Regions from separate parts of the Homo sapiens genome. Here region 2 is linked to region 1. The links come from fine-mapping of genetic effects on gene expression. A gene starts in region 1. The other region holds a variant in brackets. All regions are shown on one strand. Distances are from middle to middle.

Region 1 (16,301 bases):
TACACACACACACACGTATATTTGGCAAAAGACCTGAGAAGAGTTAATAACCCAGATAAACACATAAAAAATAAAATCCAAACACTTATAGTTCCTTAGCCTGGGGAAATGAAAAACTGAATTGTGATAGTGATGAAAGATACAGAAAGGTAGGAAGAACAGCAGATTTAAAGGAAATACTGGTGAGTACATACATATATAGGATGTTAAAGATTATTCAAATAGAGGCTGGGCGCAATGGCTCACACTTGTAATCCCAGCACTGTGGGAGGCCAAGGCAGGTGGATCACTTGAGGACGGGAGTTCAAGACCAGCCTGGCCAACATGGTGAAACCCCATCTCTACTAAAGATACAAAAAATTAGCCAGGCGTGGTGGCACACTGTAGTCCCAGCTACTCGAGAGGCTGAGGCACAAAAATCATTTGAACCTAGGAGGCGGAGGCTGCGGTGAGCCAAGATCGCACCACTGCACTCCAGCCTGGGCAACACAGAAAGACTCTGTCTTTAAAAAAAACAACAACAACAAAAAAAAACAGATTACTCAAATAGAGCTGGGCATCGTGTCATACACCTATAATCCCAGCTACTAGGGAGACCAAGATGGGGGGACTACTTGAGCTCAGCAGTTCAAGACCAGTCTGGGCAATACAGTGAGACCTCATTTCTATAAATTAAAAAAAAAAAAAACTATTCAAACAGAGATGCAGCCAGGCACAATGGCACACACCTGTAGTCCAGCTACTCAGGTTGCTGAAGTGGGAGGAATGCTTGAGCCCAGGATTTCAAGACCAGCCTGGGCAACATAGTAAAACCCTGTCTCAACTTTAAAAGAAAAAGAGAGAGATATCTTTTAAATAGATAAAAATATAGGAAAGTAGTTTATGTGAGAAGCCAGGAATGAAATTTTTGGAGTCTTTTATACATAAAAGATAAATAAAGGGTGATATGGTTTGGCTCTGTGTGTCTCCACCCAAATATCATGTCAAATTGTAATCCCCAGTGTTGAAGGTGCAGTCTGGTGGGAGGTTATTGGATCATAGGGGTGGTTTCCAAAGGTTTAGCACCATTCCCCTAATGCTCTCTCATGATAGAGTTCTCAAGAGATCTGGTTGTTTGAAAGTGTGTAGCACCTTCCCCTTCTCTCCCTCTATCCTGCCAGCCATGTGAAGACATGCTTGCTTCCCCTTCGCCTTCCGCCATGATTCCAAGTTTCCTGAGGCCTCCCCAGCCCTGCCTCCCATACAGCCTGCGGAACTATGAGTCAATTAAACCTCTTTTCTTCATAAATTACCCAGTCTCAGGTAGTTATTTATAGCAGTGTGAGAATGGACTAATACAAAGGGAAGAGGACTATGGTAGGTACCAAGTGAATGTCAAATTGAAGTAGGAAGGCAAGCAGCTAGAAAGGCAGGTAGGTGGGCAAATGGGAAGAAATGAAGGAAACTGCTTGGTTTACTATTTAGTTCTAGCCCCAAGCCGGGCACTGTGGTGTACACTTGTAATCCCAGCTACTCAGGAAGCAGAGGTGGGAGGATCATTTGAGCTCAGGAATCCAAGACCAACGTGGGCAACATAGCAAGACCCTGTCTCAAAAAAGAGTCAAGACCCTGTCTCAAAGAAGAGTCCTAGCCTCAAGGGTGAGAAGAGAAAAGTAGAAGCATACTGAACAAGAGAAAGAAACAAGCAGAAAGATAAGCAAAAAGGACAAAGAAGGAACAATCAGTGATAAAGACCTAGCAACAGTGTCTCTGAAACCAAGTTTCTAGGAGAGGCTCAATTATGGAGTATCAAGAACTTGTAGAGGATTCTAATAACAATCCTAAAAGCTGCAGTGCATGATTCATGCCTGTAATCTCAGCAATCTGGGAGGCCAACAGCAGGAGGATCACTCGAGGACAGTAGTTCAAGACCAGCCTGGGCAGGCCGGGCGCGGTGGCTCACGCCTGTAATCCCAGCACTTTGGGAGGCCGAGGTGGGCAGATCACGAGGTCAGGAGATCGAGACCATCCTGGCCAACATGGTGAAACCCCGTCTCTACTAAAAACACAAAAATTAGCCAGGCGCGGTGGCACGTGCCTGTAGTCCCAGCTACAGGAGGCTGAGGCAGGAGAATCGCTTAAACCCGGGAGGCAGAGGTTGCAGTGAGCCGAGATCACGCCACTGCACTCCAGCCTGGGTGACAAAGCAAGACTCCGTCTCAAAAAATAATAATAAAATTTAAAAAAAAAAGGACCAGCCTGGGCAACATAGCGAGATCCTGTCTCTACAAAATTAAAAAATTAGCTGGGCATGATGGTGCATACCTATGGTCCCAACTATTCAGGAAACTGAGGAGTGAGAATCGCTTGAGCCTAGGAATTGGAGGTGTTGCAGGAAGCTATGGTCACGCTACTGCACTCCAGCCTGGCTGACACAACAGGACCTTGTCTCAAAAAAACCCTTAAAAGTATTTAAAGAATTGAAACATAGAACTAGGAGAAAGAAATATAGAATGTTAGGCTGGGCGCGCTAGCTCAAGCCTATAATCCCAGCACTTTGGGAGGCTGAGGTGGGCGGATCACAAGGTCAGGAGATCGAGGCCATCCTGGCTAACACAGTGAAACCCCATCTCCACTAAAAACACAAAAAATTAGCAGGGCATGGTGGTGGATGCCTGTAGTCCCAGCTACTCGCGAGGATGAGGCAGGAGAATGGCGTGAACCTGGGAGGCGGAGCTTGCAGTGAGCTGAGATCGTGCCACTGCACCCCAGCCTGGGTGACAGAAGGACACTCAGTCTCAAAAAAACAAAACAAAACAAAATGAAGAATTATAGAATGTTACAGAAAAGATTTTAGGAAACTACTCCTTTTTTTTTTTTTTTCCTAGAGACAGGGGCTCACTCTGTCAACCAGATTAGAGTCCAGTGGCATGATCATGGCTCACTGCAGCCCTGACCTAGCAAGCTCAGAGATCCTCCCACCACCTCAGCCTCCCAAGTAGTTGGGACTATAGGCATCCACCACCACATCTAGCTAATTTTTTTATATATATTTTTGTGGAGACAAGGTCTCCCTATATTGCTCAGGCTGGTCTCCAACTCCTGGGCTTAAACAATCCTCTCACCCTGGCCTCTCAAAGTGCTGAGATTACAGGTATGAGCCACCACACTCAGCCTGGAAACTACTGTTCTAGCTCCTTTTTTTAGCACCTTGCACTTGGTTCTCCAACCAAGCAATGCCTTGCCCCCAGGCTGCCTAATGTGGTATTTCACCCTTTTCATCTACAAAAAAGACAATACTCCACCTACCTCCTTCTCAAAAGATATCCATTGTACTATATTTCAGTAGGAAGGTGACTCTAAGTCACAATGGAAAAAATCATAACTTGGAGATTAAGAATGATGACTGTGTAGATGGACTGCCAACAATAAAATTCTGTCTCTAACTTCTAGTAGCTATGTGACTTCAGACAAGTTACTTATTCACTCTCTGTGCCTTAGTTTCCTCATCTGTAAAACAAGAATAATAATACTTACCTAATACGATTGTTATAAAAATTAAATGAGAACAGCTGGTAAGTATTACTAATAAATATTAGATATTATTATAGTTAGTACAAATTCATGATGTCAATGGCTTAATTAGTTTTATCCCTTCAAAGGTATTTCATATTAACAGTGGGTTTTACATTCATTTTTATTCCACAAACATACATTGAACTCTAATCCAACATACTAGGCACCCACTGTAAGCACTGCAATGCTCTGGTAAACAAGGAAAGCAAAAGTTCTGCTCTCATGGAACTTATATCCTAAGTATGCTGGTTTTGTTGTGTTTTTTGAGACAGGGTCTCACTCTGTCTCCTAGTCACCCAGACAGGAATGCAGTGGCACAATCATGGCTCACTGCAGCCTCAACCTCCCAGGCTCAGGTCATCCTCGCATCTCAGTCTCCCACGTAGCTGGGACTACAGGGAATGCTACCACACCCTGCTAATTTTTTGTATTTTTTTGTACAGATGGGGTTTCACCACGTTGCCCAGGCTGGTCTCAAACTTTTGGGCTCAAGCAATCCACCTACATCAGCCTCCCAAAGTGCTAGGATTACAGGTATGAGCCACCATGTCCAGCCCTAAGTATACTGTTGAATCCATAAACTTACTTGTCCATTCAACTACAATGAAAACGTGGAGGGAAAATATAAAATGGGCCTCAGAGGGTGGCTCACACCTGTAACCCCGGCACTCTGGGAGGCCGAGGCAGGAGGATTGCTTGAGCCCAGGAGTTTGAGACCAGCCGGGGCAATATAGTGAGACCCGGTCACTATCTAAAATAATAAAAACTTTAAAACAAGAAAATACATTGACGAAATTATGAAAAGTGACATAAATTTGAAGAGTTTATGTGAAAAGTTGGAGACAGTTGCTACAGACTAGACATAAAGATTAGCAACAAAATAGGAAAGTGCAGCCTGGCATATAGAAGGAACTTAATTATCCACTCCTTTCCCTGGGTTTGTCTCCTTAAGTGTAAAATGATAGGTGTTGTCATATTTCCAACCTGAAGATTCACTGATGTCTACTTACTAAAGTCATTATGGCATATTAGGCAGTCGTGGTTTTTTTTTTTTTTTTTTTTTTTTTAGACGGAGTCTCACTCTGTCGCCCAGGCTAGAGTGCAGTGGTACGATCTCAGCTCACTGCAACCACCACCTTCCAGGTTCAAGCGATTCTCCCGCCTCAGCCTCCCGAGTAGCTGGGATTACAGGCACCTGCCACCATGCCTGGCTAATTTTTGTATTTTTAGTAGAGACAGGGTTTCTCCATGTTGGCCAGGCTGGTCTTGAACTCCTGACCTCAGGTGATCTGCCCACTTCGGCCTCCCAAAATGCTAGGATTACAGGCATGAGCCACCATGCCCGGCCAAGGCAGCATTCTTAAAAACAGATGGCGGCGGAGCATGGCGGCTCACGCCTGTAATCCCAGCACTTTGGGAGGCCAAGGTGGGCGGATCACCTGAGGTGAGGAGTTCAAGACCAGCCTGGCCAACATGGAGAAACCCTGTCTCTATTAAAAATAAAAAATTAGCCGGCGTGATGGCAGGTGCCTGTAATCCCAGCTACTCGGGAGGCTGAGGCGGGAGAATAGCTTGAACCCAGGAGGCGGAGGTTGCAGTGAGCCAAGATCACGCCATTGCACTCCAGCCTGGGCGACACAGTAAGACCCTGTCTCAAAAAAAAAAAAAAAAAAAAAAAAAGGCCTTTGCAATATAATAAAATACTATCTCTTTTTTTGTTGGGGGACAGGGTCTCACTCCAACACCCAGGCTGGAGTACAGTGGCATGATCACAGCTCACTGCAGCTTCAACTTTCCAGGCTCAGGTGATACTCCCATCTCAGCCTCCCAAGTAGCTGGGACTATAGAAGTGCACCACAGTGCCCGGAAAATTTTTTGTATTTTTTGTAGTAAAGGGGTTTCGTCACGTTGTCCGGGCTGGTCTCAAATTCCTGGGCTCAAGCAATCGGCCTGCCTCGGCCTCCCAAAGGGATTAGAGGCACGAGCCACCACACCTGGCCATAAAAGAATATCTTGACATCTTAACTTTACATTGCATGAATTCCTATTTTCCCATATCTGAAAAAGGTAAATAAAGGTAACAGGTAAGAATTGTGTTAATTGACGCAGTTAAAACTAAGTTATATAGGTGAAAATTAGCTAAAAAAAATTTTCTTCCTAAATGACAGCCTTACAAACCCAAACGGTATTACCCTTTTCCTTCTACATTCTTCATCCACAGTAACTTGTACATAATAGCACAAAAAGAATTCTCTGCTAATGAGAATACCAGAATCAAGAGAGATAAAAACCTACACTTACTACAAACTCATTCAACATCTCTAGTTTGAATTTGGAATTGTAAATCAAATACCTAATCTCCTCCCAACTGTTCCCTCAGCCAATGCATTACAAATGACACATTCAATTTAAAAAGTGTTCCACCTTGGCTGGGCATGGTGGTCATGCCTATAATCCCAGCTCTTGGGGAGTGCCCAACGCAGGAAGATCACTTGAGGCCAGGAGTTAAAGACCAGCCTGGGCAACATAGCAAGACCCTGTCTCTAAAAAAAATTTAAAATTAGCCAGCCACGGTGGTGCACACCTGTGGTCCCACCTACTCAGGAGGCTGAAGTGGGAGGATCACATGCTCCCAGAAGGTCAAGGCTGCAGTGAGCCATGATTGTGTCACTGCACTCCAGCCTCAGTGACAGAGCAAGACCCTCTCCTATGGGGAAAAAAAATGTGTTCCTCAAAACTTGTCTAGTCCGGGCCGGGCACGGTGACTCAAGCCTGTAATCCCAGCACTTTGGGAGGCCGAGGCAGGCGGATCACAAGGTCAGGAGATCGAGACCACCCTGGCTAACAGGGTGAAACCCTGTCTCTACTAAAAATACAAAAAAAAAAATTAGCCGGGCGTGGTGGCGGGTACCTGTAGTCCCAGCTACTCGGGAGGCTGAGGCAGGAGAATGGCGTGAACCTGGGAGGCGGAGCTTGCAGTGAGCCAAGATAGCACCACTGCACTCCAGCCTGGGCGACAGAGTGAGACTCTGTCTCAAAACAAACAAACAAACAAAAAAAAAACAAAACAAAACTTGTCTAGTCCATAGATAAGAAACAGCCTAAAGTTTCATGGACCACCTACCCACCGAGTTCTACTTGCCAGTGATAAGTAGAACTAGTGAAAAATGATAGAATATGAAGAATTATCAATTCGAGAAAAAAAATCATCACAGAACTATTACTTCAACACAACTCTTAGAGAGTACCAACCATATTTTACTCTTCTTCTAATGCAGCACCACAGTGAAAAATGCAGAAGAACGTGGTCCCCTTGAAAAACACTGCAGGGCCACCAGCACAATTAACATGTTCAAGCACTATTACTAACCCTAAGGATTAACTTGGCCGGGTCAGTGGCTCACACCTATAATCCCAGCAGTTTAGGAGGCTAAGGTGGGAGGATTGCTTGAGGACAGGAGTTCAAGATCAGCCTGGGCAACATAGCAAGATCCCATTTCTACAAAAAGTTAAAAAATGTATCCAGGTGTGGTGGTGTGTGTCTGTAGACCCAGATACTCAGGAGGCTGAGGTGGGAAGATCACTTGAGCTCAGGAGTTCAAGGCTACAGTGAGCTGTGATTACACCATTGCACTACAGTCTGGGAGACAGAGCAAGAACCTGTCTGAAAAATAAAAATAAGTATTATTTTTAAAAAGGATTAACTGAAGTGAAGGTTAAAGAGTGAAATATTTTTTAAAATCTTGACAAAACTAACAAGAATTGTAAAAAAAAAAAAAAAAAAAAAAAAATTAGTACTCCAGCAAAAATACAAAGTAGAAAAAACTCAAAGAAATAGGCATGGTGTCCCTAGTCCTTAAAATGGCTCTAAGGAAAGAAGGTATGACAGTGTAGCAAAGAATTCTGACCTGAAAACATTTACTTTCACTAAGCACAGTACATTTCCACCTATGTCCCTCCATTCATTAATCTCATTTCCCAAAAAGCAACAGGCTACTGAAAAAATCCACAATGTATCTCTGATCTCTTCCTCATGATATACAAGAGCAAAGGGAGAAAAGAAAAAAGAAAATATATCTTCTGATTTGATTGAACTGAACATGGGATCAATAAGTCAGAAGAGATGGAATAATTTTTCAACATCAAAAAAGAAATCTGGTCAAAGTGTCTCACATCTGTATTCCCAACTTGGAGAGACTGAGGCAAGGCTTGCTTGAGACCAGGAGATCAAGATCAGCATGGGCAACATAGCAAGGCATCTGTCTCTACAAAAAAATTTAAAAATTAACCGCGCATGGTGGCAAGGCACCTGTAGTCCCAGCTATTCGGGAGGCTGATCGTGAGAGGATCACTTGAGCCCCTGAGGTGGAGGCTGCCGTGAGCAGTGATCTTGCCACTGCACTCCAGACTGGGCGACAGAGCAAGGAGCAAGACCCTGTAGCAAAAGAAAAAGAGGGGAGAGGGGACAGGAGAGAGGGGAGAGGAGAAAGGAAAACAAAGAAAAAGAAAAAGGAAATCTAAAAATTGCAGAAGCAAGCAGCCAAAGCATAGTAAACAAAGCTGTTTCATTAACAAGGATTCTGCACACACACATACACACTAACATATGCTATTTTCTGCTAAGATTTAAGCTGATATTGATCAGCTTATGAAAATATGGTCAAGAGGCTGTCATTCTGGTTGCTGTTGTTCAAAAAACAAAACAAAATAAAGCAACCCCACCCACACAGCTGGAAAAAAGCTTCTGACATATGAACTAAAACTTGTTTACCCAGGCCACTTCTTAATAAGAGAAATGCTTTGCAATTTAACTAGGGTTATATAAGTATTTTGCAATGTGTGATCAGTTAAAAATCTTGTTTATTTATTCCATAGTTCACAGATAGGTTATATTACTACAAGGTCAGGTTTGACATAACGGCATTTTTCCTGTTTTATAGTTTTATTCTATCACTCAGCACTTCCTGCAATGTAATTTTTGCGATTAATTTTACCTCCCTTTCCTTCAAAAAAAATTTAAAAGATTAAAAAAAAATGACGTGACAAATTAACCATTTCTTAAAATAGCTATTCCCAGAAACACGGTAGAAAAGAAATTTCAGTGATTCAACTGTCCTATCAAAATCTGGATATTGCAAAATCATACTGCCTTTCAGTAACATGAAAAAAAATCTAATTTAAATTTCAACGTGGGGATGGGGGTAATCACTCCTACTGTTTTATTTTCAAGAAATTCTCCGCCCCACGCAACACACACACATATCTCAAGGCCCTTTTTAAGGCTATCAAATATATTGGTTTTTGGAAAAGGATAGACTTTATTTGGCAAGAATAACCAAGGTCTCCAAGATAAACTAGACCCCTAAAATGAAATGCCTTCTAAAGAGGAATAACTGTAACATAGAGGAAAGAGGGCTGGGACTAGTAATTTGAAGATCTGATCTCTCTAGAACTGCACTACACCCTACTCCATCTCTTAGACAAAACAGACCAAACCTTTTTGATATTTGATTATTTTTTGAAATTGAGAAATGGTGTGGAATCAAACTTTTCTGAAAGAGTTTGGAAATTGCCTCGACGTAGGCCTAACAAGATTTAAACCTGGGGCTGTGGAACTAAAGACCTGTCCGGAACCATAACCATTACACAAACCCCTGCCCTCAGCAGGCAAAGACCTACAGGCCCTCTTAACACAAGATCTAAGTTTCAAAGTATAGTCCGGGGACGGAGACGGGGACGGGGGTTGCGGGTGGGAGGTAACAGCCTAAAGAAACGTCGTATATATCAAAGAATGTCCATTTTTTATTTTTTAAATTAAAATCTAAACCTTTAAATGTTTGGAAGCAACGCCTCAACTAAAGAGCAGTGTGGTCCAGGGTTTATGAATCCAAACTACTCTTAAAGTAAACCGAGACACTCTGCCTACAGTTTTCGGCATCAAGCGGCTCCAGCGGGCAGAGGGTTAAAAGAGGACCACATCACAGACCAGACGCCGACCGAGGAGTGAGGGCGGGCCAGCCCCGCACTGGCTGCCGCTCCAACGGAGGTCAGGACAGGGAGCCCCCCTCAACTCCCACCTGCCCCCTCGCTCCCTTGGGTATACTCGAGTCTACCCAAGTCCCCGGGATCGGGCCCCTCCCCAGGTCACCGCTCCCCCACCGTCTCTCGCGGCCCCCGCCCCGCCCCGGCGCCTTCAGCTCCAGCTGCGTCCCCTCAGCCCTGGGTCTCCTTAGTTGTCAGCCCCTTCGGCCCCTCCCCTTTAGAGGCGCCCCAGTCCTCCGTCTCCTCACCGGGGTTGGCAGTAGTCGCCGCCATGGCCGCAGATGCCACCGCCGCCGCGCCACCCCCCCCCCCAGTGGGAGGAGCCGCCGCCACCGAACCGGGAGGGAGGGGAAAAGAAAGGCCACTCCCCAGAAGCGGCGCCTGACCGCCGCCTCCGCTACCGCGGAATCCAAGATGGCGGCTTCAGCAGCCCCCAGCATCCCAGCCCCTGCGGCGGGGAGACCCCGCCTATATAGTAGGCGGAGTCAACACACGGCCAGCCTCCTAAGAAAAATTGACCAATGAAAATGCCAAATCGTCCAAGGGCAGGGCTACTCACTGCGCCAGCCAGTCCAGTGAAGGGAGGGCGAGGAAGAAGTCCAGCTGTCTCCCTAATCTCGCCCTCCTTGCGTAAGAGGTCAATGACCGAGTAACGTCATTGAAATGCAATTAAAATGGGTATTTTAGGCTGGGCGCGGTGGCTCGCGTCTGTAATCCCAGCACTTTGGGAGGCCGAGGCGGCCGGATCACCTGTGGCCAGGGGTTCGAAACCAGCCTGGCCAACATGGCGAAACCCCGTCTCTACTAAAAATACAAAATTAGCCGGGCGTGGTGGCGCATGCCTGTAATCCCAGCTTCTTGGGAGGCTGAGGCAGGAGAATCGCTTGAACCTGGGAGGCAGAGGTTGCAGTGAGCCGAGATAGCGCCACTGCACGCCAGTCTGGGCAACAAGAGCGAAACTCCGTCTCAAAAAAAAAAAAAAGGATATTTTACTAAAAACCTTCGCTTGGTGGTGGATTCGTCTGAGTGGTTGCCGTGCAGACAATGTATCTTGTAAATCCTCTTTAGGTGCTAAAGAGCACCTAAACATCACATGGTGATTTGTAATCCTTTCCAGTTTTTTTCCTCTTTTAAGGACTTTTGTCCCTGGTGAAAAAGTTAAATGACTAACTTTTGAATGCCTGCTATGGAACCGGTAGTCTAAAAGGATCCAGGTGTTAACGGTTTGGTATGGGAGATATTGCCAGCCAAAATTGGAGGCAATAGATGAAGAAAGTAATTTGAGAATGGGTAACTTCTTTGGTCAGTGACAGGGACAGAGTGAGGAGTTTTGTTTGTCTGTTTTTGAGACAGAGTCTCTCTCTGTCGCCCAGGCTGGAGTGCAGTGGCGCAATCTCGGCTCACTGCAACCTCCACCTCCCCGGTTCAAGCAATTCCCCTGCCTCAGTCTCCTGAGTAGCTGGGATTACAGGCGCACGCCACACGCCTGGCTAATGTTTTTTGTATTTTTAGTAGAGATGGAGTTTCACGACGTTGGCCAGGCTGGTCTCGAACTCCTGACATCAGGCAATCTGCCCGCCTCGGTCTCACAAACTGTTGGGATTACAGGCGTGAGCCACCACACCTGGCCAGTGAGGAGTTTTTAATAGGGAATCAATAAGATGATGGCTGTGCAGATTTATTTTCTTTTTTCTTTATTTTTTTCTGAGACGGAGTCTTGCTCCATCACCCAGGCTGGAGTGCAGTGGTGCGATCTTGGCTCACTGCAACCTCTCCCTCCCGGGTTCAAGCAGTTATCCTGCCTCAGCCTCCTGAGTAGCTGGGATTACAGGCGCGCACCACCACGCCCGGCTAATTTTTGTTTCCTGGTAATAGGAAGCATTGAGCTATTCGAGGTAGGCACTGTCCAAAATGCTTTATATGTATTTACTCATTTAATCCTCACAACAACGATGAGGTAGGTTCTACTGCTATTTCCATTTTGCAATTAAGGAAACAGAAACAAAGAGGGTAAGCAAGGGACATCCAGCAGGTAAGTAATGTGGGAGGCAAACTAAAGGAGTCTGACACTGGAAACCTGTTCCACCCATCCCCCTATTTTAGCACTACAATTTTAGCACTACAAAGTACTTCCATTTTCATGTATCGCTCACAAAATGTTTAATACAAATTTAATTAAAATTTTAACAAAAATCCCATTATGCTATTGAACAGCTTTGCATTCTTAGAAGTTGTATATGTACTGCGCAGATTACATTGATCCACTTATTTAGTTTACTGCAAAGGTATTTTAACATAATTTACATATTATTGTTTACATCTGTTAAAATTTCATTTTTCTTTCATTTTGTTGTTATATTTATAAGTCACCAAAAAGAAAAAAATCATCCACCCAAAAGAAATACATTGGCTGGGCTGGGCGGGGTGGCTGTAATCCCAGCACTTTGGGAGGCCAAGGAGGGCGGATCACAAAGTCAGGTGTTCGAGACCAGCCTGGCCAACATGGTGAAACCCCATCTTTACTAAAAATACAAAAATTAGCCGGGCATGGTGCCGCGTGCCTGTAATCCCAGCTACTCCGGTGGCTGAGGCAGGAGAATCGCTTGAACCTGGGAGGCAGAGGTTGCAGTGAACCGAGGTGCCCCTGCACTCCAGCCTGGGCGACAGAGCAAGACTCCATCTCAAAAAAAAAAAAAAAAAAATGCTGTAGCTTCTTTACCAAGTAAAATGGATTTTTCCAGAATAAATGCAAAATGTTTTCCTGTATGATGTGGATACATTTTGTGGTTAAAAGAGATCAAGTTACATTTCTGTAGAAAAAAATTGGTAGAAATCATTTTGTTATAGAGCTGCTTACACAACTAGCTACAAAGTTAATAACATATTCTGTTTGGAGACAGTGCAACAAAGCTGGCTGGGTGCAGTGGCTCACGCCTGTAATTCCAGCACTTTGGGAGGTCAAGGCAGGAGGATCATCTGAGATCAGAAGTTCAAGACCAGCCTGGCCAATATGGTGAAACCCCATCTCTACTAAAAATACAAAAATGAGCTGGGCGTGTTGGCACACGCCTGTAGTCCTAGCTACTCAGGAGGCTGAGGCAGGAGAGTCGCTTGAACCTGGAAGGTGGAGGTTGCAGTGAGCTGGGATCGATTGGGCCACTGCACTCCAGCCTGGGTGACAGAGCGAGACTCAATCTAAAAAAAAAAAAAAAAAAAAAAAAGTGTAACAAAGCTATTGGCAGAATTCTTTGTCAAATATCACATGGAGTCATGATACACAACATGAAATGGCAATATCTGCCCTGTACCTGCTACCAGATGTTTGTTTTAAGCGTAGAAACCACTGATATACACAATATGAATCCGCTTACAGCATATAGGCAATACATAAGGAGAAATGCCCAGAAACTTCCTGTCTGGTTTATCATTAAAAATTCAAGATACAAAAGAAAACATTTTTCATTTAGATAAGAATTATTTTGTGAGGTATGAGTCAGTCTGAAAAAGATATCTTGGGATCAAAACTGATGGAGTTACAGGCCAGGCATGGTGGCTCACGGCTGTAATCCCAGCACTTTGGGAGGCCAAGACAGGCGGATCACTTGGACCCAGGAGTTTGAGACCAGCCTGGTCAACATGGCGAAACCCCATCTCTACTAAAAATACGAAAATTAGTCTGGCATGGTGACACATGCCTGTAATCCCAGCTACTCGGGAGGCTGAAGCACGAGAATCACTTGAACCTGGGAGGCGGAGGTTGCAGTGAGCCGAGATCATGCCACTGCGCTCCAGCCTTGGTAACAGAGCAAGACTCTGTCGCAAAAAAAACACAAACAAACAAACAAACAAAAAAACACTGATGGAGTTATAACTTTGGATGCAGAAAGAACACTGTTCCTACAAAAAAGATGTCAGTCCACTTTCCTTTTTATTTCCTTTTTTTTTTTAGACAGAATCTCACTCTGTTGCTCAGGCTGGAGTGCAGTGCCATGATGGCTCACTGCAACCTCTGCCTCCCAAGTTCAAGCTATTCTCCTGCCTCTGCCTCCTCAGTAGCTGGAATTACAGGCGCCCGTCACCACTGCCCCGCTAATTTTTTTGTGCTTTTATTAGAGATGAGGTTTCACCATGTTGCCCAGGCTGGTCTCCAACTCCTGAGCTCAGACAATCCACCCACCTCGGCCTTCCAAAGTGCTGGGATTACAGGCATGAGCCGCCATGCCCAGCCCACTTTCCATTTTATTCAGAAAACAGTTCATAGCCAAAATATATTTCTCCCAGCCAGGCTCAATGGTGCATGCCTGTAGTCCTAGCTAATCTAGAGGCTGAGGAGGGACGATCACTTGAGCCCAGGAGTTTGAGGCCAACCTGGGAAACATAGCAAGGCCTCATTTCTAAAAAAAAAATTTCTCCTGATTTTGATTCGACATTGAACAAATTAGCACAAACCATAAATGTAGTAAAATATCATCCAGTGAGCACAATCTTTGAGAAGAAACAGATAAATTGGTGCTTTCTCCACAGTTAAGTATGGAGGCCAGTAAGGGGGGGAAATGCTGTCAGTTTTTAATAAGGATTGAAGTGAAAATCTCTTCTTTATGATATAGATAATACTAACATAAACCATTTTTATTATTTTAAGTAGGATTTAAGTAGGTTTCTCAAATGGTTCATCTGAGCAATATTTTCATTAACATGAACATATTACTTTAACTTCTAAATGTCATGGTTTGGAGTTTTGTTTTTGTTTTAGAGATAGAGTCTCACTCTTTCACCCAGGCTAGAGTGCAGTGGCACCATCATTGCTCACTGGAACCTCGAACTCCTGGCCTTAAGCCATTCTCCCACCTCAGCCTCCCAAAGCACAGGGATTATAGCCATAAGCCACCACACTCAGCCTGTTTTTGCTTTTTAGTTCATGCCTTTTATTAACCCATCTCGTCTTCTGGTTTGTTGAAACAGTAAGTCAGACAACATTTGCCACAATAATGTCTTTCAAAGTGGCTGGCCATAAAAACTCCAGCACCACACTCACCTGAAGGGCACTCACAACAAAGGCAACTAGTTTTGCCATTCTTGTCCACCTTGTAATATTTTAGGACCGTTAGCTTAACCTTCTTTCTCTTATGCGTATTCTTCTTGGGAGTGGTGTAATACTTCTTCCTTGGCACCACCACAAAGTCTCAGCACAATAAGAAGAGTGGACTCCTTTTGAATGCTGTCATCAAAGTACATCCATCTTCCAATTGCTTACCAGCAAAGATCACTCTGCTGATGAGTAGGAATTCCTTTCTTATCCTGCCAGGACTTTACATTTTGTATTGTATTAGAGAGTTCAACCAATGAACCCCAACAAATAAGAGAGTGATGTCTTCCCCATTACAAAAATCTGCATCTTGGTAGCAGTTCTCCTGCAGATGGTGGATCACAAAGCAAACATTTTTAATGTTAAGAACAAAGTATCAGGATTTTGTAAGAAAAGCAGACTATGATGCAAATGCCTTGACTGCCAAGAGTATTTTATTTCCCAACACATGATAATTTTCTTTCTTCATCAGAGGAAAAAAATGAATGACACATTATTGAACATATTCTAAACCACATCCAAATGTTGCAACCAAATGGGGGTAAATGCTTCCCAGAGCTGAATGCAGCCAATGCAACTGAATACAACTCCTGCCCTCTCTCAAGTTGAAGCATTTGACTTTTGAGGTTACTCTTTGCTCTTCTGCTTAGAATCTGACAAACCACTGAATGCTTTCACTAGAAATTCTCCAATAGATCCTTGTAAGCTCCAACTATTCAGAATTATCTGGTAGCCATCAAACATTTCTTGCCATATCTGACAAACTCACTGTAAATACAGATTTTCTAATTTTAGTAGAAATAAAAATTAACAGATCAGATCAGGATGCCAGTTGGCAAATTTTAAAAAATTAAGAAATCTGTTGACTGTGAAGCCTGATCTACATGTTTTTATACACATTTTCAGCTTATCAATATTTAACCATTACTAATACTATTACTATTATGTTTATATTAATTTGTAAATTAATAGAAAATTACAGTTTTTTTCTGTTAACTCTTATGGTAAACTGGTTTTTTTAATTATTTAGAATGGTAGTTTTTAAATTGTTTTTTGTTTTTGTTTGTTTTTTAAGACCAGTCAAGTGAAGGAACAAAGAAATCTGTAACTGATTGGGATCAATTAGTTGTAAACACCAAGGCACTCAGACCAGCCTCCAAAGTTTTATTAAGTGTCTCTGGGTATGGTTGCCAGATTTAGCAAATAAAAATAAAGCTAAGCCAGTTTGATCTGAATGCTGGATAAACAACAAATAATTTTTTTTTTTAAATGGAGTTTTGCTTTTTTTGCCCAGACTGGAGTGCAATGGCATGATCTTGGCTCACTGCAACCTCCGCCTCCCTGGTTCAAGCGATTCTCCTGCCTCAGCCACCCGAGTAGCTGGGATTACAGGCACCCGCCACCACGCCCAACTAATTATTGTATTTTTAGTAGAGACGGGGTTTCACAGAGGCTGGTCTCAAACTCCTGACCTCAGGTGATCCACCCACCTCGGCCTCCCAAAGTGCTGGGATTACAGGCGTGAGCCACGACGCCCAGCCTACGAGCACATCTAAGGAATGGAAACCAGATTGCAAGTGGGTGAGAAGTGAGTAGAAACTAAGTAGACACAGTTAGT
Region 2 (16,301 bases), 250 kb before region 1:
TCTATGTCCTTTTATGGCTATACTTTTTACACTCCCACCTCTCTAACATCCTACTTTACAAGTCTGACTAAAGCTGTCAGACAACGACTCCTATAAATTACTTAGCCCCAGTCAAAAACAATCAGCTGGGAGTTTACTGTTATATTTTCGCCTTGAGTCTCCAGCAGGATGAGGCATATATAGTCCTACTTGAGACCACTTTCTCACTCAGTTGGCTTCCCAAGTAGACTAACCCCACCACCTAGTAGAGTGGCTGGCACACGGTAAGTGCTCAGCAAACGTCTGCAGAAGTAGACCATGTAACTAAACCACATCCACCTGTGCTCATTTCACCTCCTTTCTCTTCAGAACCCTGCTTTTTGGTTATTATCATTCTCTACTGAGCTCCAGCTTTTACTTATTCCTTTCACTCTTTCAATAAATATGCCTGAATTATTCCCATCCTAAAACAACCACAAAACCTCTCCATATTACTTAGTTCTATAAGCCAGATTTCACCTCTACAAATCCACTGAAATTGGTCTCAAAAAGGTTACTAACTGCCAAATCAAATGGATACTCCAGTCCTTTTTCTTTTGTATTTGGTGTTTGAGTTTTTTCTTGAGATGGAGTCTTGCTCTTGTCGCCCAGGCTGGAGTGCAATGGTGCGATCTTGGCTCACTGCAACCTCCACCTCCTGGGTTAAGTGATTCTCCTGTCTCAGCCTCCTGAGTAGCTGGGATTACAGGCACCCGCCACCACGCCCGGTTAATTTTTACTATTTTTGGTAGAGATGGGGTTTCACCATGTTGGCCAGGCTGGTCTTGAATTCCCAACCTCAGGTGATCCCCCCCATCTCGGTCTCCCAAAGTGCTGGGATTACAGGCGTGAGCCACCATGCCCAGCCCTGTCTACTCTTCTTTATACCCATTGTCATTACCTTCCTTGGTTCCTAATCATCTCTCACCTGAAATATTGTAGCAACATAATAAAGTGTCTTACAATTCAACTAGCCCATGATAATGGTTTACTGAGTGGAGTATGGAATTTCCACTTAGGTGTTACTTCACCTGAGTTACTTCAAACTTCACCATTGTTACTTCATTTATTATTTTTTGAGACGGAGTCTCACTCTGTCGCCCAGGCTGGAGTGCAATGGTGCTAACTCGGCCCACTGCAACCTCCGCCTCCCGGATTCAAGGATTCTCCTGTCTCAGCCTCTTGAGTAACTGGGATTACAGGCACCTGCCACTACACCCAGCTTGGCCTTGCCCCTTGGATGCTTACTACAGTTACTGTGAATTATTCCCAGTTTGCAGAATGTAATAACTCTGAATCACTTTACATAGTTCTTTCTACCCAGAAGACCCCTTTCCCGATCTAACCCCTTTACCTGAATAAATTCTTCTACTTCATCAGATCTCAGCTTAGAAGCTATTTTCTGTGACAGGATTTTCCTGTCCTTCCTCCACCTCCTCAAATTGGGTAGGTTCCCCTATTCTGTGCTTCTAGAGCATTTTGTGTTTGTCCCTGTCTTAGCACCAATCCCTTCTAATTCCTTATCTGTCTGTTTTTATTATATCCCTCTGTATACTGTAAACTCCTTGAGGGCAGGAACCATGTTTTATTTTTTTTTTGGAGACAGAGTTTTGCTCTTGTTGCCCAGGCTGGAGTACAGTGACGCAATCTCGGCTCACTGCAACCTCCGCCTCCCGGGTTCAAGCAATTCTCGTGCCTCAGCCTCCCAAGTAGCTGGAATTGCAGGCATACACCACCACATCTGGCTAATTTTGTATTTTTAGTACAGACAGGGTTTCACCACATTGGTCAGGCTGGTCTCAAACTCCTGACATCAGGCCATCCGCCCGCCTTGGCCTCCCAAAGTGCTGAGATTACAGACGCGAGCCATCACGCCCAGCTGGAACCATGTTTTACGCACTTTTGTAGTCCCTGAAGTAAGGCCTTTACAAGCCTTATCTTGCTTAATCATCACAACCACCCTCATGGTAGGTACCATGTCGTTACTATTATGCAAGTAAGTAAATTGAGGCAGAGAGTTAAAGAAACTTGTTCAGAGTTATAAAAAAAAATCAGGATTTTAAAATTTTATTTTTTTCAAGATGAAGTTTCACTCTTATTGCCCAGGCTAAAGTGCTGTAGCTTGATCTCGGCTCACTGAAACCTCCGCCTCCTGGGTTCAAGCGATTCTCCTGCCTTAGCTTGCGGAGTATCTGGGATTACAGGTACCCGCCACCAGGCCTGGCTAATTTTTGTATTTTTAGTAGAGACGGGGGTTTCACCATGTTGGCCAGGCTGGTCTCGAACTTTTTTTTTTTTTTTTTTGAGACGGAGTCTCGCTGTCGCCCAGGCTGGAGTGCAGTGGCGCGATCTCAGCTCATTGCAAGCTTCGCCTCCTGGGTTCAGGCCATTCTCCTGCCTCAGCCTCCCGAGTAGCTGGGACTACAGGCGCCTGCAACCACGCCCGGCTAATTTTTTGTATCTTTAGTAGAGACGGGGTTTCACCGTGTTAGCCAGGATGGTCTCAATCTCCTGACCTCGTAGTGAGGAGCTGAGACTGTAGTGAGCCATGATTACACCACTGCATTCCAGCATTCCAGCCTGGGGGACAGAGACCCTGTATCAAAAAAAAAAAAAAAAAAAAAAAAGGCCAGGTGCGGTGGCTCATGCCTGTAATCCCAGCACTTTGGGAGGTTGAGGCGGGTGGATCACTCGAGGTCAGGAGTTCAAGACCAGCCTGGCCAACATGGCAAAACCCCGTCTCTACTAAAAATACAAAAATTAGCCGGGCATGGTGGTGCATGGCTATAGTCCCAGCTACTTGGTAGGCTGAGGCACGAGAATCGCTTGAACACAAAAGGTGGAGGTTGCAGTGAGCTGAGATCACACCACTGCACTCCAGCTTGGGCAACAGAGCAAGACCTTGCCTCAAAAACAAAACAAAACAAAACAAAAAACAAAAACAAAAAACCACAGCCAGGCGCGGTGGCTCACATCTGTAATCCTAGCACTTTGGGAGGCTGAGGCAGGTGGATCACCTGAGGTCAGGAGTTCAAGACCAGCCAGGGCAACATGGCGAAACCCCGTCTCTACTAAAAGTACAAAAATTAGCCAGGTGTGGTGGCAGTCACCTGTAATCCCAGCTACTCAGGTGGCTGAGGCAGGAGAATAGCTTGAACCCAGGAGGCAGAGGTTGCAGTGAGTTGAGATCTCACTACTGCACTCCAGCCTGGGCGACAAGAGTGAGACTCTGTCTTAAAAAGAAAAAAAAACCAACAGGCCAGGAGCAGTGGCTCAAGCCTGCAATCCCAGCACTTTGGGAGGCTGAGGTGGGTGGATCACTTGAGGTGAGGAGTTCAAGACTGGCCTGGCCAACATGGTGATACACCATCTCTACCAAAAATACAAAAATTAGCAGGGCATGGTGGCACATGCCTGTAATCCCAGCTACTCCGTAGGGTGAGGCAGAATCACTTGAACCCAGAGGTGGAGGTTCCAGTGAGCCAAGATCACACCACTACACTCCAGTGACGAAGTGAGACTCTGTCTCAGAAAAAAAAAAAAAAAAAAGCAACTATTATTAATTAATTACTTGTCCCTATTCCTCTGTATAGCTAGACCACCACTGCTGTAAGTTTAACACTGTAATATGATTTCTTCATGTGTAGGTCACCACTACAATGTAATCTCCTTGAAAGAGGCAGCCACATACAATTTACCTTGTATTTTAGCACAATGCCAGGCATATTGTGGACACTTATTAAGTAACTGCACTGTTTAAATACTACCCACCTTTCAAGGCCCAGTTAAATGTCCATTTCCACCACTTATGTTTACCTAATGAGTCCAGTCAGATTTTCTCTTCTCAGAATTCTACTACTTGACTAACCATATGCTATCTTGCATTATATGTAGAAGTGTCTCAATTAGGTTACATGTTCCTCTAGAGCAGAGATGACCTCTTACACTGTTTATCTGGCCAAAAACAGCTTATTTTTCCAACTGCAAAGCGAGTATTCAGCAGTCACTTGGGACTTAAAATATTGCAGCCCAACCACGGGAGGTCCCACTTTATCTTTACTAGTGAAGTCATCTGTCTTTAATAAAATTCAGCTAACAGCTTATCTCCTGACTCTCCTTCCCTTAGCTTAGCTACTGGAACTCTGCTTAGAACTATAAATCTGCCTGTATTTGTGTGCTGCTGTCATATCTCAGGTTCCCCAGGATGGAAGAGATCTTTCTTTTTAATCTCCCTCAAGACCCAGTAGAGGGCATTATACAGACGAGGGCTGCTTGTGTGGGTGCTGTTGGCTCACTGTGGATATATCCTCAATGGCAACTCTCCAAGTTATTTTTCTTTGCCTGTCTTTGATATGCCCAGCCCACACCAGCTTAAAATAAAAGCTGTTGGACAGTAACGGTGACTTCATCCCTGCCACCCTGTATATTAGATGGCTCAGCTTAGTGGCTTGTCAGCACAATCAGGTTGGAGGAGTGGAAGAACCTTTGATTCAACTCTTTGGGATAAAGACTTTAGAATACATCTAGCTAAAATAATGAGCAGGAATAACTATTAGAAGCATTGCAGAATCAGTTTGCTTTGCTTGCCTAGCCCTACAGTATGGGAGTGAAGGAGATGGACTGTCAAGTTTTAAAATGGGATACATCCTGCCAAGTGTGCAGTGGTGAAGAACTAAAAGGAAAAAAAAAAGGCTAAGGAGTAACATGAAATACAGATAGCCCCAAACATTTTTGGCACCCCAGGCTTCTTAAGGCCACAAATTAAAATTGAGGACCAGGGAAGCCAGGAATAGTGGGAAGAAATAATATAAAAGCCTAAGATACTAACTCAAGCTCTTCAGCTAACTAGCTTTTCTACTTTACAAGTAACTTATCTCTATACCTTAATTTCCTCACTTGTATTAAAATGAAATTGCACTAACTGCTGGGTGTAGTGGTTCACACCTGTAATCCCTGCACTTTGGGAGGCTGAGGTGGAAAGACTGCTTGAGGCCAGGAGTTCAGGAGCAGCCTACACAACAAAACGAGATCCTCTCTACAAAAGAAAGGATGAAAATATATTCTCAGCCAGGCGCAGTGGCTTATGCCTGTAATCCCAGCACTTTGGGAGGCTGAGATGGGAAGAGTGCTTAAGCCTGTGTTCTGAGACTCACCTGGACAACATGGTGAATCCTCATCTCTACAAAAAATAATTAGCCAGGTGTGGTGGTGTGTGCTTGTAGTCCCAGCTACTTGGGAGGCTGAGATGGGAAGATTACTTGAGCCCAGGAGGTTGAGGCTACAGTGAGTGTTTGCACCCTGCACTCCATTCTGGGTGACTGAGCAAGATCCTGCCTCTAAAAAAAAAAAAAAAAAGAAAGAAAGAAAGAAATTGAATGATCCCACATTCAGCCTCATAGACCTCACCTCATTCCCCAGCTGGCAAACACAAACCAGGGATAACATACTCAGGAGGAAATCATGGGATGGCTCACTAACCCCACCACAATAAACACCATTAACTTGTGTCTCTAGTTTAAATTTGTACTTGTTTTATTTTATTCATTTATTTTTTTTAGATGGAGTCTCGCTCTGTCGCCCAGGCTGGAGTGCAATGGCACAATCTCGGCTCACTGCAAACTCTGCCTCCTGGGTTCAAGCGATTCTCCTACCTCAGCCTCCCAAGTAAGTGGGATTATAGGCATGTGCCGCCACGCCCGGCTAATTTTTGTATTTTTAGTAGAGATGGGGTTTCACCATGTTGGCTAGGCTGGTCTCAAACTCCTGACCTCAAGTGATCCACCCACCTTGGCCTCCCAAAGTGCTGGAATTATAGGCGTGAGCCACCGTACACCCGCTGGAGTTTTTTCTCCTTTGGTAACCTTTCTTTTGTACGTTACATTCACAGGCAGCTTTTAACTTCTTTCAGTAGCAGGTTTCCAGCAATGCAGATTGGCACATCATGAGGAAAGAAATCACTCTGCCTCCTGCTGGCCACCAGCAGAAAGACTTGAGTTTCTTTTGGCTTATTACAAAGAAATAATATATTTCTTTTGGTTTGTCACATTTCTCCCTCACAAACATGGGAACTTGAAAAGGAATGGAAGACAGAGGGAAAAGGAGACTGGGCCTCCTTTTCTGCTAAACCTGGACTAGGCTTAGGTGTCAAGAAACCATTTAGATCAAATATCTTAAATGCCTCATTTTGTGAGCCACAAACTGAGGTTGATGCACCTTCTACATTGGTTACAGAAACAAAGGGATGGGCAAGGTTTATGCCAACATTCCTGCTCCCTTTCCTAAGTGATGGTATTGGGGAACTCAGCCGCATCTCACATTAACAATGTCTTCAGTATTGTTTTCTTCCCCCTCCCAAACCCCAATAAAACACACCAACTGCTTCAGAATATTTCTGGGTTGGGTTTTTTCATGGGTTTTTGTTTTGTTTATTTCGAATACTGAAAAAGTCCTTTGGGCTCTGTGGGGTTCCCCACGCTCACGGCTCCTTTCTCCCACACTCACTGCCCTTCTTCCCACAGCAAATCTATTTCAAGGACAGTACTTTTTAAAATGATTAATGTTGAGTTCTCAACTAGCTCTGCAGAACTAGAGGAGCTGTTTGCATCTGTCTGTGCGGATGGAGTTTCTTTTATCTGACACCAGGTCTCCAACCACACTGAAACAAGGCATTTATCTACAGAGCTCAACTAGAACCCCTTTTCATTAGGCTACTCCACTTCCTTCCCCTCATACCTACCCCACATCAGCCACGTGGTTAAGAAGGATAGTCAGGAATGTTTTTACCAACTCCAAGCCCTAATTCATACTCCTCCATATCTCCCACCCCACCCTTTCAACCCCACCCCCACCCCCAGAATTTCATTGATATTTCTCCCAACTGTTATTTGGAAAAAAGGTAAAACAAAAAAGGTTCAAGGTCTTGGTGCTCAGCCCAAGGGGCTCCATGTGCTGGGACACCAACAGGAAAGGGCTTCTGCCTCTCCAGCCCACACCCGAGCCACCTCCTGACCCCTGGCTGCAAAAGCAGGAAGGGGCAGGAGCCAGCACAGGACCCGGGTGGGGCAGGGAGGGGAAGCGTCTCAGGATCTGGCAGAGCCCCGGGCAGCATCATTCAACTTGGCCACTGCGGACGAACACAGAAGAAAAAAAAAAAAAACAACACTGTCAAGTAATAGGGGAAAAAAACCCTGAACTCCAACCCAGTCTCTACCCCATGATTCCTCCACATTTAACAACCATTAGGCTACCTGGCATGTCTCAATCCTATCCATAAGGGAGTTGCAAAAAAAATCAAAAAATAGAATTTCAGTCTTTTCCTATCCACGAAACAACGTTATCTGCCTTTCTGGGATATCCATGGATAACAAACATAGAAAAATAATTCTTTAGATAAGATCAAAATAACTGGAGGTTTCCAGGTGGGTAAGCTGCCTGGCTCAGAGCAGGCTGTTTCAGAGGCATGGCCACAGCTACTTGCAAAGACTGAGGTAGCACAGAGATGAGGTGGTGACTGTGTGGAGGCCAGAACCAGACCACACACATGCTGTTCTGAATGGATTTAATAATCTAGGTTTAATCAAAGCAATTTGCATTTGGATTTTGGAATGACCACTCCTTGCTAAGGAAGCTATGTACTTCATGCTGTGGAAACTGGCAAATACAGAATGTAGCTTGTTTGTTTTCTTAGCCTTGAAGATGACCAGGTAGAGAGACAGAGTGAGACCAACAGTTTTTCTGATTTCCCTGCTCCTCCTATTCCTTCCTAAAAATCAGACTCATTGTGACCAGTAGTCTTGAGGACTCAAGCTGAATGATAGAGAAGGCAGCTCAGACAGAAAAGAAAAAAAGTACAGAATTTGAGAAGATCGGAGATGAAGAAAACGTACAAAATTATATATATATTTATATATATAATAACATGACATATCTATGTACAACATGGCTGGGACAGTTGAAGAAACTATACAATGGTGTTCAGCATTTTCCCCTTCCCAGATGGACTTTAAGGATGACAGCATGAGGAAATGGAGCAAGAAACACAAAAATTATATACAATTACAAGTGACAGTCAAGGAGTTTGGGGACCAGGGAGTCCAGGGATCCTGCTCTCTCCATTCCTTCCTCACCAACTTTCTCCTATCCAATTTGAATGACAGCCTGAACACTGAATGGCCAGTCAGGAGAAAGGCATATACACACCTCATCCCCCCACATGCACATCAGCAAGTCTATCAGTCATTCTCATTGGGCCAAATGTTTGGCATATCAGAATTTGTGATGTGAGAGGGCAAGAGGATTACAGAATCTTGCTCTCTTGAGCATTAGTTCTCACCCTGGTCCTCTCTGTCATAACTAGCAAGTTGCGTTCAATAAAATTCTAGCCAAGCTGGTGGTAACTAGATTGAAGATGCTGGTCACCTGCAACCCCTTTCCTCCACCTGTTCATGAGTCAGCATGGCTACCTCTCCTCATGATAAAAGAGCTGGGTTGCTGAGTTCTGGGGATG[CAG/C]AGATTTCTCAGTCTTCCTCCTCTCCCTCCCTAACCACTTTCCCCAGCTTCCTCCAAGGTGAATCATCTTCTAAGAACCTGTTCCTCCAGCCCTGCAGGAGTACTCAGCCCCAGGGGCTAGCTCAGTTTACCCTTCTTCCTCTTTCCCTAACAATATACCTGGCATCAGACTGCATCTGAAACATGGGTCAACACATGTGCATGACTGAGCATGTTTCCTCAGGCCTGCAGCTCCGCTGCCAGAGAAGCTTTTTAGCAGCTAAGGCCCAGAGGTAGGCTGGGAAAGTGGGCTGGGTCAGAGGCAAGAAGCTTCCATGGCTAGCTTCCTAAGTATTTTTTTTTGACCCTCAAGACTGTGATATCTATAAGGTTCTCTTGCCTGAATTTATAATCCCCAAACCTCAATTTACTCTCTCCTCATGTATCCCTCAAATGGTTCCCCTCTGTAGTACTTTCCCAGTATTACAGAGCAGAGGTTCACCACCCACGAGCCTTCCTCACTTTTAGTTTTACAATGAACAGTATGGAGTTTTTCTGCTGGCAGTTAAGACTTCAGAATCAGAATCAATCTTACATACATTTAACTCTATTTTACAGATGAGGAAATAGAAATCCAGAGAGGCTAAATGACTTAATCAAGGTTATACAACAGCTCTGCTGGGACTGAGTAGAGTGAGAACCCAGATATCTTGACTCCTAAACCAGTGCTCGTCCCACTATCCCATGATACTTTCAAAAGCAACATGCTGGAAGAGAGAGAGAAGGTGCCCATTTTCTGTGAATAATGTTCATCAATCTTTATATTATTTGAGAGCCAGAGCAAACTGTAAGAGATACTAAGTAATGGAGGCTAAGGGGGCACTGTAGTTTTAGGCAAGCAAGTCAATTTTTCTTTTTAAGGATTCTCTAAACCTGCCATAATGGAAACATGAAGCAATAGCAGCCTAAGGGACAGAACACTTAGAAGCACAGAAAACATGTCTCATTCAATCTACCTTTCCCAACTACGTTAGGTTAGCCTTGGGATGTTAAACCTGCCAAACTATTCCCAAGGCTCAGCCTAATCAATTTTGGGACATTCTCTCCCAAAAGGAGAAATCACATCTCTCCAGTTTCTCACACAAAAAAAGCATTTGCAGCATTATCCAATCCTAGCCTTTCCTATTTCTGGGCCCTACCTGGACTACAGGGAGTGTGTGGAAGTGTCAATCTAACGAAATAAATAAACTTAGAGCCCCTTTTCAACCTACATTACCTTCTCAGCAGCCCCCAGCAGAATCACAGTCATTTCTGGCTAGCAAGCTGAGAAGATCTGACTAGGTGCCCATTTCATCCCTGCCTATAATATATAAACGTCCAGTGGTTGAGGAAGGGGAGGAGAGGGGGGCTCAGGTTACCCCGCAAGCTTGCTGGTGACGAGCGAGGACTTTCTCTGGGGCAGATCCTGTGGGGTGGGGATGTGATCACCAGTCACCAGGTTCTTGTCTGGTCCTGCACTTGGCAGCTGCTTATTCTTCATCTTGGCTTTGGCCATGTTGTAGTCTCCTGAGTCAAAGTACTTTTGCTAAGAGATAAGAGGGAGGTTTAGGTGAGTGAGGACTCTGGCCTTCCTCAAAAACAAGGAGACTCACATCTCACATCCATTATAAACCCTCATGCACACTCGGATCTTTCAAGAAGTCTTCCTTGATTAACCTCATGCATACACAGTTTAACATTAATTACATGTACTTATGTCTTCTCCCCAGTGTGTTCTGACTTTTTCAGGTACATAAGCAATTTCCCAGCTAGAGTATATAGTTTTGGAGTCAAGGGATAGCCCCTGCCATCCTTTGTACTCCACTCAGTAGAGGATCGTTCCACCAAAATCACTTATTCATAAAGGGTAACTGAGGACCTTACTGGGTACAGGGCAATAGCCTGGAACTGGAGAAACAGAAATGAATAAGATATAGAGAAGGATAAATATGGGGCTATCCTAGCCACCAGGAGATCAACCACAAGCCAACAACCTCAAAATGATTATTCTCCCAGACCAGGAATAGAAACTGGGCCTGTTCATGAGGATAATGTATTTTCCTTCTGACTCTCACAGCTCCCACACATGTTCCATGACTGTGACAGCCTGCCCACGCCTGCCTTGCCTCCAGCAAGGTAAATGCAAATCAGCATCACATTATCATCTGTGACTAAGACTCAATAACTGGGATCCTCCACAGGGATGTTTCACCCACCATTTCATCCGCACAGAGAAGCACACTCCAATGTAATGATTTATAATCCTACAGTCATTGCAGAGGAGAGTAAGGAAAATAAAAAAATTTTTTTTTGAGATGGAGCCTCGCTATGTTGCCCAGGCTGGAGTGCAGTGGCACGATCTCGGCTCACTGCAAGCTCCGCCTCCCGGGTTCACGCCATTCTCCTGCTTCAGCCTCCCGAGTAGCTGGGACTACAGGCGCCCGCCACCACACCCGGCTAAGTGTTTGTATTATTAATAGAGACGGGGTTTCACTATGGTCTCGATCTCCTGACCTCGTGCTCCGCCCGCCTCGGCCTCCCAAAGTGCTGGGATTACAGGCGTGAGCCACTGCGCCTGGCCAAATTTTTTTTTTAAAAAACGATAATATAATCCCTCAGTCAGCTTTAGGTACCTTTGGGAACTAAAAATCTGATCAGGAGCTACATGGCTATGAAAGTAGACTCTCTCTTGGTAAGGAGGACCACTCTGAACAAGAAAAATACATTTGCTGCAGGAGTATAATTAATGGCTGGTGCTCACTTCAAGGGTATGAAGAAACTGATTCATTTCAAGTTGAGGATTTATTTCTGTAGGAGAGATGGTTTGATCTTCTTCTGAAATGATGCATCCCAAAATTTATCTCTAATGCTTAAAAAGTGCACAATCCTAAAACCTCCAACATTCAAACAGGCAAATGCCTGGGGGCAGTCTGCATTTCAGTTTCTAACATCTTTCCCTCATTTCCCCACACACCCAAATGCTCCAATTTAGGCCTTAATTTCCTACATGGGAAATCAGGAGGGAATTGATACCACATCAGGGATTTACATTAATTTGACTTGCTCTTTTCAAATTTCAAATTCGCCTCTACTTCTGTTCAACAACAAAACCTCCAGAAAAGGATCCAGTAGAACCTCTACAGACTTCATTCGAAGAACCTCCTTTAGCTCCAAAGAAAGAGGGTAAGAGACTATGCCCCATACCCCTTTCTGGAGTCTCTTCATGAGGAAGTCGGAGCCTCCAGGCTTTTGTCCTAGGCTTGGGTATTTGGCCTTTAGCTTTGCCTCTTCAGCTCTCTCAGGCAGAATACCTTCTTTCTCCTGCGTGTCCTGGAGAAAACAAATGAGCCAAATAAAATTAAAGACTGAGAAACAACAGCTTCTCACATCTGATAACAACTATACTATCAACTTCTCCTGGAAATCCACCCACTTGTAAATACGCTATCTCTACTCTGCTGTTAAAGCTAGACCTTTGTTAAAATCCCTAAAGCTCAAGATGACTATTGTGAGAGAAAAAGACAAGCTGCTTCTCACACTTCACCCAAGGAACCAGCCAGGGACCTGTGCGTATTGGGCTAAAGGTAATACTAAACACAATACTTTAATCACAGAGTGGGCCATATCACTCAGCACAAATGCTAAGAAAGACAAAGAGAAAAAAGCAGGGCTTCTGGTGATAGAGGATGAGTAGCAGGGTTCCCTAGGCTATCCTACATGTCACATGAGAAATTAAAAAAAAAATAGTTTGGGGCTGGGAGCAGTGACTCATGCCTGTAATCCCAGCACTTTGGGAGGCTGAGGCAGGTGCATCACTTGAGCTCATGAATTCACTACCCGCCTGGGCAATATGTTGAAACCCCGTCTCTACAACAACAAAAAATAGTTTGCTAAATGTTTCCTCCTTATTTTTTTCTTTCTTTTTTAAAATTGCTACACGACAAAGCAGTTCCTTCTTTATTCAAGGTCTAAGCCACCTGTTAGGTCTCCCTGTGGAGGCGGCTAGCTATGTGGCCTTCTCCAAAGATCTCCACCTGAGTAATGGCACAGCCTTGCTTCAACATTTCCACAAATATTATGGTAGCAAGCTGATAAACAGAGAGGAAAATGATACTGTTTTTAACCTCAGGAAAACAAAGATACAGTAGGCTCACTAGTATTTACCCACCAGTTTTCATCAAAAAAATCAATACCTACCCTGGTGGTGCAGGGACTCTCACTACTGTAGTCAATCTCTTTTTTTTTTTTTTGTGGTCCCTGCTGCCCTTTAGTGACTTTTTGAAAAGATATGAAGTCAACGTATGACTCTTTTTAGTGGAATTATATTCCTTTCTCTTGGAAATTACGCATAGATATAACACCAAGTGTATTTAATGAGTACCTGAACCCAGTACTAAATTTTAAAAGTCAAATACAAACCCCAATAAGGGGTTTATTTGGCGTTAGTGTTTCCATCACGGAATCGCAGGTGCACTAAGTCCCTGCCTTGGAAGTCTAGGGGAAGAGAGAAGTGTCTTTCTCACGACCCTGTCGGCGTCTTTTCCAAGTTTAATTACCATGATTCTGTTTGGAACTCTAGCCCTCTTCAATATTGCTGGGTCCTCACTGAAGGTGAGCAATAGACCATCCTTAGCTACTAAAATAGGTCTCTTGAGAAAGTTGCCGCCTTAAACTAGCCATTATAATAACTACACTTCTCCCCTCCCCCAATACTGGTTTTTTTTTAAACGTCTTTACCTCGACCCCTATCTTTGCGGATTGAGGCTGCGGGCCCCAGCCCGGTTGCTGGGTCACTTACCTCTACAAACCAATAACACACATCACACCCAAGACCACCAGCCATCCCCTTTCCATTCACCGTCTTTCCAACCACCCGCCCCACGTCCATGCTCGGCCAATTATAGCACAGCGTCCAAGGTTTGAGCGGTAGGCCTATTGGCCAATCAGGAAGAGTACAGTACTGAGTGACAAACGACCCAACTAACCAGCGCCAAAGCAGCATGTCGTGTTGAAGCTCACCCAGCGTGACGCAAAAAGTGGCCAACCCCTGCGGAGCCTGAGACCATGGCGACCAATCCGCACTGGTGGGAGACCGTCTCCCGCCCCATCACGGTCTCCCCAGCTCGCCCGCCCGCACCCCTTCCACTTCACCTGCTTCTCCTCGCCGGTCTCCTCCGCAGGGTTCTCTTCTTCTTGTTTCTGGGACATGGCGGGACCGGGACTGTGGAGTGTAAGGGGCCCGGGAAGGCAACCGGAGAAGGGAAGGGGGAGGGGAAACGGGGACAACCTGCGCTGCTGCTTCGGCTCCTGTCACTAGGGTTGCTCAGTCAAAATGGCGGCCCTTGCCCGTGACGTTGCGACCGCCCCTTCCTATGAGAGCCAGTGGGAGTGAGGTAGATAGGGCAATGACGTAACGATCTACCAATAGTCGCCGTCTAAAGGTGGGCTCTATAGAGGCGACCGGCAAGCTGGAACACCAACCTGGAAAGAGAGTGAGCCACAAGGACCAATTGGAAGCCTGTGGGGGATATCGGGGGCGGGGCTGCTGGCTGTGGTACTTTTGCAGCTTTGGTGGGCTCCGGCTTCCTTCACTCCAGCCCACCGCGTCCGAGAGACTTAGCAGGGCGTCAAACTGGAGAGCGGAAGGATGGAACCTTTTATTCTCAGGTGGAGAGGATTAAGCTTTGCGGTGTTAGCAGAAAATGATCGAGCTCCAGAAAATGATTTGGAGGTCAGATTCGATTTTAAAGTAGTACTAACAGGCCGGGCGCGGTGCCTCACGCCTGTAATCCTAGCACTTTGGGAGGCCGAGGTGGGCGGATCACCTGAGGTTAGGAGTTCGAGACCAGCCTGACCAACATGGTGAAACCCCGTCTCTACTAAAAATACAAATATTAGCCGGGCGTGGTGGCGGGCGTTTGTAATCCCAATTACTTGGGAGGCTGAGGCAGGAGAATCGCTTGAACCCTGCAGGCGGAGGTTGCAGTGAGCCGAAATCGCGCCACTGCACTCCAGCCTGGGTGACAGGACGAGACTTTGTCGCGAAAAATAAAATAAAACGGTACCAATGGTATTACGATGTGTCACTTGGCCTGTGGAAGAGAGAGACTGAGTCTCAACCCGAGCTGTCTTGCAAAACACTAATGGCTTACGTTCCGTAGTTTCACTCTTATGTGTAGTTTTTATATTCCATCAGGGTGATCCCTTGGGGACTACGCTCCTTGAAACAAGGAGGACAGTGTAAGTATGTGGTAAACATTTGGTAAATACGGTTAATACTAGTTAACCTATCCAGAATTACAGTTTAACATTTCCTGGGCGTCTGTCTGTATGTGGATGGTACTGTGTTAGTTGGGGGGGGTACGTGTATAGTAAGGCAGTCTCTGCCCTTAGAAAGCTTACAGGCCTGGCTGGGCGCGGTGACTCACGCCTGTAATGCCAGCACTCTGGGAGGCGTAGGCGGGCGAATCACTTGAGGTCAGGAGTTCGAAACCAGCCTGGCCAACATGGTGAAACCCTGTCTCTACTAGAAATACAAAACAAGGCTGGGCACGGTGGCCCACGCATGTAATCCCAGCACCTTGGGAGGCCGATGAGGGTGGATCATGATGTCAGGCGATAGAAACCATCCTGGTCAACATGGAGAAACCCCGTCTCTACTAAAAATACAAAAATTAGCCAGGCGTGGTGGCGTGCACCTGTAGTCCCAGCTACTCAGGAGCCTGAGGCAGGAGAATCGCTTTTACCTGGGAGGCGGAGGTTGCAGTGAACCGAGATCGCATCTCGCCACTGAACTCCAGCCTGGGTGACAGTGAGAGTCCGTCTCAAAAAAAAAAAAAAAAAAAGAGTGGCAGATAAGAAGTGCTCTTTATGGAGATAATTTGGTGGTAATGAATAAAAAGACTCAGAATTCCAAGCAGAAAACTACCAGAGATGAACAGTCTAGCCGAGTCCTCTGCAAACGTTAGGTGGGAGATAATTAGGATTTAACCTAGAAACGTAGTAGTTAAGAATAGAAAATAGTGAACCTAACCAAGAGAGTCTGTGACAATGGAATCCACTAGACTAGCAGCTGACTGAATAGAGAATGAGAAGACTGTGTGCCTCAAGGTGATTATTTATAGAAACAATAAATTCAAGAAGAGGAGTCAATTTGGGAATGGAGCTGAAAAGCAGAGAGAAAATAAGGCATTCAGTTTTGAAAACATGGACTTTTTTTTTTTTTTTTTTTTTTTTTTGAGACGGAGTCTCGCTCTGTCACCCAGGCTGTAGTGCAGTAGCACAATCTCAGTTCCCTACAACCTCTGCCTCGCGGGTTAAAGTGATTCTCCTGCCTCAGCCTCCCGACTACAGGTGTGCGCCACCATGCCCGGCTGATTTTTGTATTTTTAGTAGAGACAGGGTTTCGCCATGTTGGCCAGGCTGGTCTCAAACTCCTGAACTCAGGTGACCTGCCTGCCTCGGCCTCCCAAATGCTGGGATTACGGGCGTGAACCACCGTGCCCGGCCTGAAAACATGGACTTTATTAAAAGCGAATGAACCATTTGGTGGAGACATCCAGGCAATGAAGACTTAGGATAAATGACCTCTAAGATCTCCATATCTGAAATTTAAGGGTTCTAGGAAATGTAAGTGTGGGAGTTTGGGAGAAAAGTAGACGCTGAAGATGTACAAATTTTGGACTTTTTCACATAAATGTAAGTAAAGTTGTGGAAGTTGATGGGATCACAAAGGAGAATGTAGGAAAAAAAGAGGT

Evidence for each region.
Region 2: its variant is fine-mapped to the expression of ARNT in whole blood (TOPMed, PIP above 0.99).

Annotation. Positions count from the first base shown.
Region 1 is chr1:150,866,698-150,882,998 of GRCh38, forward strand. It overlaps ARNT (aryl hydrocarbon receptor nuclear translocator), which reads right to left and starts at 9,902. Exons shown (of 22, transcript NM_001668.4): 1 at 9,846-9,902. The coding sequence starts at 9,870. It also overlaps a transcript of LOC107985204 not described here and the pseudogene RPS27AP6. RefSeq lists enhancers at 7,466-7,967, 7,968-8,467 and silencers at 9,528-9,957, 9,961-10,234.
Region 2 is chr1:150,615,719-150,632,019 of GRCh38, forward strand. It overlaps ENSA (endosulfine alpha), which reads right to left and starts at 13,894. Exons shown (of 4, transcript NM_004436.4): 1 at 13,696-13,894; 2 at 11,749-11,874; 3 at 9,924-10,090; 4 at 6,407-7,141. The coding sequence starts at 13,752. The coding sequence ends at 7,126. LOC112268239 (a long non-coding RNA gene) reads left to right here and starts at 14,101. Exons shown (of 2, transcript XR_007066603.1): 1 at 14,101-14,784. RefSeq lists a silencer at 6,935-7,229 and enhancers at 10,457-10,988, 13,609-13,878, 13,621-14,588, 14,589-15,558. The variant CAG/C (reference allele first, on the strand shown) is at 8,525.